Linked DNA regions of Homo sapiens. The protein of the gene in region 1 purifies or fractionates together with the protein of each later gene. This does not show direct contact. Each region holds a gene or a part of one and is shown in the gene's direction. Other genes may lie near its edges.

Evidence for each region. The genes of interacting proteins can lie anywhere in the genome.
Region 2: the proteins of PSD2 (region 1) and FARP1 purify together in Homo sapiens (affinity purification with mass spectrometry; one large-scale study listed by BioGRID and IntAct). This does not show direct contact.
Region 3: the proteins of PSD2 (region 1) and FARP2 purify together in Homo sapiens (affinity purification with mass spectrometry; one large-scale study listed by BioGRID and IntAct). This does not show direct contact.

What each region holds. Positions count from the first base shown.
Region 1 is NC_000005.10:139,802,308-139,805,807, forward strand, and holds part of PSD2 (PH and SEC7 domain-containing protein 2), read left to right. Parts: intron 1-3,500.
Region 2 is NC_000013.11:98,450,594-98,454,093, forward strand, and holds part of FARP1 (FERM, ARHGEF and pleckstrin domain-containing protein 1), read left to right. Parts: 3' UTR 1-2,579; coding exon of another isoform or gene 2,580-2,616; 3' UTR 2,617-3,500. Other genes in the region: STK24 (serine/threonine-protein kinase 24 isoform a precursor), read right to left, coding at 2,580-2,616. UniProt on the Homo sapiens protein: Functions as a guanine nucleotide exchange factor for RAC1. May play a role in semaphorin signaling.
Region 3 is NC_000002.12:241,485,285-241,488,784, forward strand, and holds part of FARP2 (FERM, ARHGEF and pleckstrin domain-containing protein 2), read left to right. Parts: intron 1-3,500. UniProt on the Homo sapiens protein: Functions as a guanine nucleotide exchange factor that activates RAC1. May have relatively low activity. Plays a role in the response to class 3 semaphorins and remodeling of the actin cytoskeleton.

The sequences.
Region 1 (3,500 bases):
AGGAAGCTTCTTGGTTTCTGTCTCTTGGCTGTTGAAGCAGACTGTGGGGAGCTACTCAGAGGTGGAGCTCTCTCAGGTCTGCCTCTGCCCAGGTGTTGTATCCGAGGCTGGGCTGGTTGGGAGGATTTGCACTTGGTCAGTCCATTGTAGCTCTCAGGATTCAACTCTCAACCCACAGGCTCATGTTAGCCTGTGGGCTCCATGAGCCTGTGGGTTGAAGCAGTGTGAGTCCAGTGCCCTCCGAAGTTGGAGGAAGGTGGCCCAGTGGTCAGTCTGGCTGTGAACTCTCTTGACCAAGACAGCTTAGTCCTTTGTGGTTCCTGATAACTGAGGGTTCACCCCGTAGGGAAGTCAGTTGGGCATAGAGTCACCAGCTGTAAACATGATTTGAAATTTGACAGCAGACTTTGTGGATTTCATTAGTGTTAAGGGCTCTTCAACCAGCATGCAGATGTACGCAAATGCTAAGCAAATGAGGGTGCCAATTGGCTGGGGGGTTGGGGAGAGAAGCAAGCTGGGAGATGTCTAGGAATGACCTTTGTGGAGCAAGCTCCAAGGGCCCCTGAGAATCCCAGCAGAGCACATGCAGGATAAGATGCAAATGTGCATGCAGCCCCGGGGACTTCTGCCTGCCTGACCATGAGAACATGAGCCCAAGGCAAGGGCTGGTTCCCTGATGGCCACACTGAGAGAAGGAAAGCAGGTGGGGGCTGGTTATCACTCCAAACAGGCATTACCTGAAAGGGATGGGCATCTTTAAAGAGGGCGTAGGTTCTTGGCCCTTGCCCTACACTTGTGTGCCCTGAGATGGAAAGATAGGAGTGAGCCTGGCCTTGGGTGAGGGTGTTGGGAGGGCAGGACAGTAGGGACCTCAGCTGCCTTGGGAAAGGGAGGGGATGCCCTCTCTGGCCCCCCTCCTGGCCCCACGGGAGTCTTTGATTTGCCTCTACCCTCTAGCTGGGCTTCTGAAGCCCCTGCCTCAGAACTTGCTCTGACAGCTGCCAAGGACGCATATCCAATGGGTGCTGGCTGAGTGGCCTGTGCTGTGTGCTGCTGTCCTGGGCATGGCACCCCTGGGGGTAGCCAGCTTGGTTCCTTGCAGCCCCCAGAAGGTTTTGGGAGGCAGCAGCCCTCCCTTGAGCACTGAACACATGCCATCTCCTTTAGTCCTCACAGGTGCCTTGAGAAGACAAATGCTCTTGGCACCCCCCATTTATGGAGGAGGACACCGAGCTCAGATAGACAGGCAGTTTTCCTGAAGTCACACAGCTTGTGGCTAGCAGAGCTTGGATTTGGAGCCAGGTCTTTCTGAGCACACAGGAAAGGGCACTGACCCACTCTCCCGGACTGTCCCAGTCTGAGGCCCTTGCAGCACAAGGCGGTCCAAGCTGGGAAGACCAAGTGGGTTAAGAGGGTTTAGGGTCACTTTGGGATGTGGAATCCGGGAAGTTCCCTAGGCTCCTGGGTGGGCGTCCCTTCCAAATTATCCTGGGCATCTCCCTGGGCAGTTGGGATGTGGAGGAGGCTGGCCTGGGCTTAGGGAGGGGGCCTGGAGCTCTTGGAGGTGGGAAGATCCTTAACTCCAGGCCCCTTGGTTGGCAGAGGCTACAAGGGAGCATGGTTAGGGGGGCCCAACTGAGGGCTTCCTGGCAGCACCCTACTGCCCATGCTGCCAGTGGCCTAGCAGGTCCTGTGGAGCCCTGGAGCACTCCAGGCCTGGCCATCCTAGGCCCCATTGCGGTGTGGGCATCGCTGTTCAGGGTCTGTTTTGACACTCCCTACATGCCACATGTTTGCATTGATCATCTCTTTTAAGTGTCTGTGTGTGTCTTGTGTGTTCATGTGTGTTCACATGTGTTTGTGTGTCTGAAGATCCTAGCCCATGTGCTAAAATCTGGGTGATCTAGGGAATCTTGGGTTGGGATTTTGGGGAAGAGTAGTGAACCAGTGGGGGTGTTCAGGGTGGGTTTCCAGGGGGCAGAGAATAGGTCCAAGAAAGATTTCTTTGCCAAGTAACCCTCATGGAGCTCTCTCCAAGTATCCAATGTTGGTTGGCAGGTCCTTGGAGACTGTCCAGATTAGGGTATGGAATCAAGGATGGATAGAGGGCTTTGAGCCTTTCCAGATATACTCTAAATGTTGCACACATTTGTGAGATTTCCAGGGCAGGATCTTCCATCAAGTGCACAAAGAGGTCCAGGACTTGGAACTGGTTAGGTATCAATGGTGCACGTGGGGACATGAGGTCAGAGAGGGGTTTTTTTGTGCCCAACTTCCCCTAGCCCACTGGAAGCAAAACGTGAGGGTCCTGGTGCTCCTAGATTTGCTTCCCTGGGTCAGCTGTGGTCTCAGCCTTGCCACCACACTGACATTCCAGAACAATTTTCTCTGATCCCAGTCCCTTCTGCATACCCAGGATGGTTTTGACCCTGGATGCCCGATGATGTAGATCTCGCTGCCCTTAACCTTGCCCATAGGCCTGCCAGTGCCTTGTCCACCTTACCAGGCAAATTAGGGGGATTGCCTCATGAGCGGCTGCCCAGTTCCCTCTGTGTGTGTGCGTGTGTGTGTGTCTGTGTGCATGTGTGTGTGCGTGCGTGTGTGCATGTCTGTGAACGTGTGTGTGCATGTGTCTGCACGTGTGCGTGTGTATGTGTGCGTGTGTGCGTGCGTGTGTGCATGTGTGTGTCTCTGTGTGTGTGTGAGTGTGTGCGTGTGTGTGTATTGTGCATGTGTGTGCGCATGTGTGTGTGCACGTGCGCGTGTGTCTGGGCATGTGTACATGTGTGCATGTGCCTACCCATACCTGTATTGTATGTCTGCTGTCAGGTCCTGCACCCATGCACTTGCCCCTGTGTCTTATAGAGCATGCTGGCCTCTGGAGCCCTCCCTGGTGGGCCCCACCTCCAGCCCTGCCCTTGGGTTTCCCACAGTCCCTGGCTTGGATCCCACCATAAAAGGGACCGTAAGATTATTTCTTTGACAATCTAGCATTCCATCAGAATCTCAGCCTTGCTGCTTTCCAGCTTTGTGACTCCGAGCAGTTCCTCAATCTCTCTTAGCCTCTGCCACAAATAGGCATGATGATAATCCCTGTTATTCATCTAACAAATACTTCTAAAGGCCTGCTGTGTGCCAAGCATTGCACTGGACTCTGGGGACACAGCCGTGAACATGACATAGTCCCCACCCTCACTGAACTTACATCCTAGTACAGAGATAGGCAGGGAATCAGTAAACACATAGAAAAGGGAGCTTCAGTTCTACTGAGTGCTATGGTGCTCCATCACTCCATGATGCAGTGCCAGGGGTCAGAGAGGGCCTTTCTCAGGAGGCAGTGTTGGAGTTGAGCCCTGAGTGGCAGAAGAAGCTCTTTTAAAGATCTAGGGAAAGAGCATTCTAGGCCACGGGTATAGCTGGTGCAAAGGCCCTGAGGTGGGAATGAACTCAGGGAGCGGAAAGAAGGCCACTGTGGCTGATGTGGGAGAGCATGGGGACAT
Region 2 (3,500 bases), on another chromosome or scaffold:
GCCCTCGTCTCCCAGAGGCTGAGTACCTCCCCAGGCTGCAGGCTCTGGGCAGCTGAGCCAGGAGCAGCTCAGGGCTGGCACTGAGAGGCTACTGGTGACAGTAAACCCGTCTCAAAGGCTGGGCCTGGCTACAGACCAGCAGCAGTTGACGCTGAGGCAGGTTCCAGTGGTAGCCCTGGTGCCTGGGCTCTCTCTTAATGCAGGCCTGGAAGTGGCGACACAAAAGCCAGCTTCCTTGGCTAAGATGCCCTTAAAAACATTGGGGCTGATTTTGTGCGTCTACAGAAAGTAACAGCCCAGGAGAGAATGTACACAGAGGCGAGCTTTCTAACTCCATCAAACCCCACCTCCCCCGACAGGAAATGCTGCCAGTCAACTCTAAAAGAACCACTTGTTGCTCTACGGGGGAAGGGGCTGAGTATGATTTGTCTGGCGACTGCAGAGACTCCCCGTTCATACCAGTATTCATTAGAACCCAGTCCCTCGAGCGGCTCACCCACTGTTACTAGCATGAGACTGGCTTCAGTGCTAAAAACTGTGATGTCATTGTCCATTTGTAAATCTGAAGAACTCTGTAAATCAGAAAAGCTGCTGTCCGCCCTGGCTCACTTAAAAATCAGGTAACGGCACACCCTGGGGAACACAGACTCAATCTGTGTGATTCGCAAGGACAAAACTCATCTTTGACTTATGCCGCCGGCCTCACGTAAGGAAACAGTTCCCCACACAGAATACTCCCTGGAAACACAAAATGAAATCTTCTCCAATTTTATTATTCAACATAACATTCTTGTATGGAGTAATGAGTACAATAAGAATTAGCAACTCAGTTCTATTTCCCCAACCAAAATATATCCCTTATACAAATTAAGAGTTCAACCCAAATCCACTTCTAATAAAATACCTCAATTTTAGAGCTTAAAAACCAGACTGCACTAGCAAACCGACACAATAACCCACTCAAGCATCTGTAGCTCAGGGCTCTGTCCCCTCCCTATAGCTTAGAGGCCACTAGACCAGCAGATAGCTGAGCTACATCCCCAAGCTCACCCACTAACTTCCTTGCTTCCAAAAATCCTGTCTTAACTCCACAAGAACTGGCACACCCACGGGAGATGTCAATCATCAGCTTCAACAAACATAAAAGAATGCTTCATGTACCAGTCAACAGCTGCTGCACGAACCCTCCCACTCCAGAAACCCAGAGATTTTCCCCCTCGCCAAGCAAGGTCCCACAGCAAACCAAGAAAAACAGACACACTGGCTGCCTGCCTAGCAAGCATAGGCCCCTTCCAGAGAAGCAAAATAACTCTTAAGGTCCCCGGCAACCGCTACAGCAATCGCACAGATCAGCAACCTCCAACTGCATCATCTCGGTGAGCAAGTGCGCAAGCAGTCCAGGGCGCTGACCTGGGCACTCGGCAGCTCCAGGCCTGGGGACTTCTCCCTGGAGTCTTCCAAAGTGTCTCATCACACACACACAGCCACGAGTACACACGCACGGCCACACATACACAGCAGGTGCCCTGTCCTCTGAAGAGTCACATTTCAAGGAGTATGCAAAATAAGCGTGTTATAAAATTTATTTGTGTAAGCATTCAGACATTTTTAGGTGGGAAAGATGATATGCAGAATCCACTACAAGGTGCAACAGAAAATCGTATTGGAAAGGACGGTACATCTGGCGCAGACCAGCAGTGGCACGATTCCAAACAAATGTCAGACGAGAGCGCTTCATGGGGAGAAACTGAAAATTATAATTTAAAGCTTCATGAGGCAAGATATGTTCCAATTTAAAACACTAAGAAATAGTACCATCGATGAAAAAGGAAATCAACCTCTAGGTGTACCAAAAGGGGCGTAGGGCAAACGGGGAAAATTTGCATTTGTTGAGGTACAAATAGGAGTGTTCTGTAAGAGAGGGGCATTAATTATTAATGACAAACCCTGCAAATACAAAATAAAACCCAAATCACTGGTCACAGAATTCAAAATGTACATGTAATAAAGGCAAGGCAATAGACTCAAGTTATGGCCTGTCGAATATTTACTCCACTGACGTTATCTACAGAAGCACTTGGCCAGTTTGTACACAGTGATTCCTTATGCACGCCGAAAGGGTTTCCGTAAAAATGACATTATATACAAATCTGTACACCCATCCACCAGAGCGATTCTCCAGCTCCCAGAGGGAGTTATCAACTTAAAGCAGGATACCTGAGGTTTCATGTCTTTAGTTGCCTTATCATAATCCCAAATATACATTTCAGGGTTTGTTTTTGTTTTTAAAGACACTTTCCTGGAATATGTGCACTATGGTTAAAATTAAAAACAAAAGTAATAAAATAAAATAAAATGATCGCTGGAAGGAGCTGACCCTCCCCACCCATCTGAGAGACTTCATCTGGCTGCAGCACAGTGAAGACTGTGTGTGTCCCTGGACGGGCGCCTGGCGCTGGGGTGGCTCCCAGTGGCGCACCTCTTCGGTGGAGTCAGCGAAGGCTCTCGTTGACTTTTAAAAAAGGAGGAGGATGAAGAAGGAAAAAAGGAAAAACAAAACCCCAAATGCCAAAGGAATTTCAGTGGGATGAAGTTCCTCCACCACTTAGAGAGTATCTAGGGAAAAAGAGAGAGAGAGAAGTCAACACATGTCATTTCTCATCCCTGTGCAAAAATTCATATAGTAACCAAAATCTTAGTTTTCATAAGAAATTCCAAGTCATACAAAAATAAGTGGAGCAAATATCAATGTGTAAGTCTAATTTTAAAAGAATGCATATAAAGACTGAGAAGATCATGATTCTTACACAAAAACTCCAGAGCATGTCACCAAAAACCAAGAATGGGTTCAGCCTCCCTGGAGAGATGTGAATAAAACGGGAAATCATATCCCTTTTACTTACGATCAATTGTCAAAAAGTGAACATTGATCCATACATGATGACACAGTAAGATTCCAGGGATGCATATGCATTCCCGATGTGAGGGCAGGAAACCCATTTTGGCCATAAAAATAGTGATGCAGTCCAAGAATCTATTTCCTAGAACTGCTTCCGAAATATGGTCCAAAGCAGGAACAACGTGTCTGCACAAAGATGTCTCTCGGGATTTTCGTAATTACACTAATTTGGAAACAACTCTGATGCCCAACAGTACAGAATCAGTTAAGTAAATTATACAAACTGAAATAACAGACTAAAAATGGTAATTATCTGTATTTACATATATATATTAAAGCAATATTAAAAATATGTACAAGTTTAAAAGTACATACAAAATTACAGATTGGGCATCCCTTATCTGAAATGCTTCTGGCTTTGGATCTGGGAATATCCGCATTATACTTACCAGTGTGCAGCCCCAAATCCGAAATCTGACATGCCCCAGAGAGCAGTTCCTTTGAGCCCCATGCTGGCGCTCAAAAGTTTCAGATTGGGGATTTGGGATATTCAGCCTGTATATGTGCACTATATAAGTATATTTACATGAACAACTTCTGT
Region 3 (3,500 bases), on another chromosome or scaffold:
AGAGTCCTCCCTCCCTCCCTGGGATCTTCCCTTCCTGGGATCTTCCCTCATTCCCTGGGATCTTCCCTTCCTAGGATCTTCCCTCCCTCTCTGGCATCTTCCCTCCCTGTGGTCCTCCCTCCCTGGGATCCTCCTTTCCTAGGATCTTCCCTTCCTAGAGTCCTCCCTCCCTCCCTGGGATCTTCCCTCCATCGGCTTCTCCCTCCCTCCCTGAGGTCCTCCCTCACTCCCTGTGATCTCCCCTTCCTGGGATCTTCCCTCCCTGGGGTCCTCCTTCCCTAGGATCTTCCCTTCCTGGAGTCCTCCCTTGCTCCCTGTAGTCCTCTCTCCCTGGGATATTCCCTCCCTGGAGTCCTCCCTCCCTGAGGTCCTCCCTCACTCCCTGTGATCTTCCCTTCCTGGGATCTCCCTCCCTGGGGTCCTCCTTCCCTAGGATCTTCCCTTCCTGGGGTCCTCCTTTGCTCCCTGTGGTCCTCCCTCCCTGGGATTTTCCCTCCCCATGGTCTTCCTCCCCCAGGGCCCTCCCCCAGTAGGGTCCTCCTTCCCTGAGATCCTCTCTCCCTGGGGTCCTCCCTCCCTGGAGTCCTTCCTCCCCCAGTGGGGTCCTCCCTCCCTGGGGTCCTCTTTCCCTGTTCTTTCTTCAAGGGTCTTATCCCTCTGCACTGCCTCCTCCTGACAATGAGCGCCAAAACCCTCAGGCAGGTGTTTGTAAAATTTAATTCCACTTCTCAGGCCCTCAGCAAGAAGAGGTCAGTTTGAATTAGCTCATCTGCCACCACCGGAAGCAGACCCCATTTGTTTTAAAGTATACTTTTAAAAATTACACCTTTATTATAGAAAAAAATAATTGAAAGTATAAGACAGAAATCACTCATCACTGGCCAGTTGCTGTGGCTCACGCCTGTAATGCCAGCACTTTAGGAGGTCAAGATGGTAGGATCGCTTGAAGCTGAGAGTTTGAGACCTGCCTGGGGAACATGGCGAAGCCAAATCTCCAAAAATCTTTTTTTTTTTTTTTTTTTTTTAATTAGCTGAGCAAAAGTGGTGTGTGCCTGTAGTCCCAGCTACTTGGGAGGCTGAGATGGGAGAATCACTTAAGCCCAGGAGGTCAAGGCTGTAGTGAGCCGTGATCGTACCACTGCACTCCAGCCCCAGTGACAGAGTGAGACCTCGTCTCAAAAAAAAAAAAAAAAAAAAAAAAAACACAGAGAAAAGAAACAAGAAAAAGAACTCTATCATCGTACCCACTCAGCAGTGATGGCTGCAGGCATCTGCTGCATGGTTGCCATCACCCACGGGCTGTTTTGTCAGGACACTGGTTTTCCTTTCCTTTCATGGCAGCCCCAGTTCACTTAACTAGTCACCTGTCACTGGACGCTTGGCTGTGGCTGGTTGTTGAGGACTGTAACATTGTTGGATCTCTGTCTTTCTGCACATCCTTAATTATGTCCTTCAGATCAATTCCAAAATGTAGATTTGTCTGAGCAAAGGTGTTTACGGCCTTGGGCACTCCTGCTAAATTGCTGTTGGAGCACCTGCGCCAGCTGACCTTCCCACCTGCAGGAGCTAGGTCTAAACATGCATCTTTCCCTCCACCATGGAAAGTGCTAGGCACCTGTCTCTCTTACTCTTCCCAAGTGGGTAAGGTAAGCAGCCCCATCGAGCAGCCCCATCATTTCACTTTGCATCCCTGCGGACTGTCGGTGAGGCCAGCCTGGCCCCTGTGTCCTGGCATTCCATGCTTTTCCTCTCAGGAATCACTCAGCGTGCTGGTCACTCTGGTCTCCATTGGTCTGTGAGTTTTTTGTACACATTAGTGAAATGTTTATATGATAATGCTCACCAACACTATTAAGTCACAAATTATTTTCTCAGTAACTGCTTTTTACTTTGCCTACAATTTAGTTTTACCTTGTAGAATTTAAACTCCATCTTGATGGGTTCTGTTTCTCTTACTCTAGAATGGCATCTGGCACATATAGGGAACCCAGCAAATGCTTGTTGAAGGTGTGAATTGAAACAGACACTCCTCAACTTATGATGGGGCTATGCCCTGATAAACCCATTGTAAGAGGAAAATAGTATAGTCAAAAATGCATTTAACAGGGCACGGTGGCTCACGTCTGTAATCCCAGCACTTTGGGAGGCTGAGGTGGGTGAATCACCTAAGGTCAGGAGTTTAAGACCAGCCTGGCCAACAGGGCGAAACCCTGTCTCTACTAAAAATACAAAAATTAGCCAGGCGTGGTGGTGGGCACCTGTAGTCCCAACTACTCGGGAGGCTAAGCACAAGAATCACTTGAACCTGGGAGGCGGAGGTTGCACTGAGCCGAGATCACACCACTGCACTCCAGCCTGGGTGACAGAACAAGACTCCCTCTCAAAAAAAAAAAAAAGAAAGAAAAGAAAATGCATTTAATACACTTAACCTCTCTGATGTCATAGCTTAGCCTAGCCTACTCTTTTTTTTTTTTTTTTTTTTTGAGATGGAATCGCTCTGTCGCCCAGGCTGGAGTGCAGTGGTGCCATCTTGGCTCTCTGCAAGCTCCACCTCCCGGGTTCACGCCATTCTCCTACCTCAGCTTCCTGAGTAGCTGGGACTACAGGCGCCCGCCACCACGCCTGGCTAATTTTTTGTATTTTTTAGTAGAGACGGGGTTTCACCGTGTTAGGCAGGATGGTCTCGATCTCCTGACCTCGTGATCCACCCGCCTCGGCCTCCCAAAGTGCTGGGATTACAGGCGTGAGCCAGCCTAGCCTACTCTAAATGTGCTCAGAACATACATTAGCTTACAGTTGGGCAAAATCATCTAATATGAAGCCTATTTTATAACAAAGTGTTGAATATCTCACATAATTTGTTGAATACCAAACTGGAAGTGAAAAACAGAATGGTCGTATGGGCACTTGAAGTTCCGTTTCTACTGAATGCTTATCACTTTCACACCATCATAAAGTTGAAAAATCAGGGCCTATCAGGGTCAGCTCTGGCTGTCTTTTCCTTGAGGGTTTCTATCCTTAGTATGGGCTCAGGAAGTTCTTCCCCATGCCAATATTATATTGGCACCTTTTAATGGTTTCAGTTTTCTCATTTAATTAATCTCCCTAGAATTTGTTTTTTTACTTTTTTGGTTTTTTTTTTTTTTTTTTTAGATGGAGTCTTGCTCTGTGTCCCAGGCTGGAGTGCCCAGGCACGATCTCGGCTCACTGCAAACTCCGCCTCCTGGGTTCACACCATTCTCCTGCCTCAGCCTCCCAAGTAGCTGGGACTACAGGTGGCTAATTTTTTGTATTTTTAGTAGAGACGGGGTTTCACCGTGTTAGCCAGGATGGTCTCGATCTCCTGACCTTGTGATCCGCCCGCCTCGGCCTCCCAAAGTGCTGGGATTACAGGTGTGAGCCACCGTGCCTGGCCTAGAATTTGTTTTGATAGATATTAGATTGAGATGTAACATTTCTCCCCATTATTTGTTGAATCCTTCATTTTCTCACTGATCTCA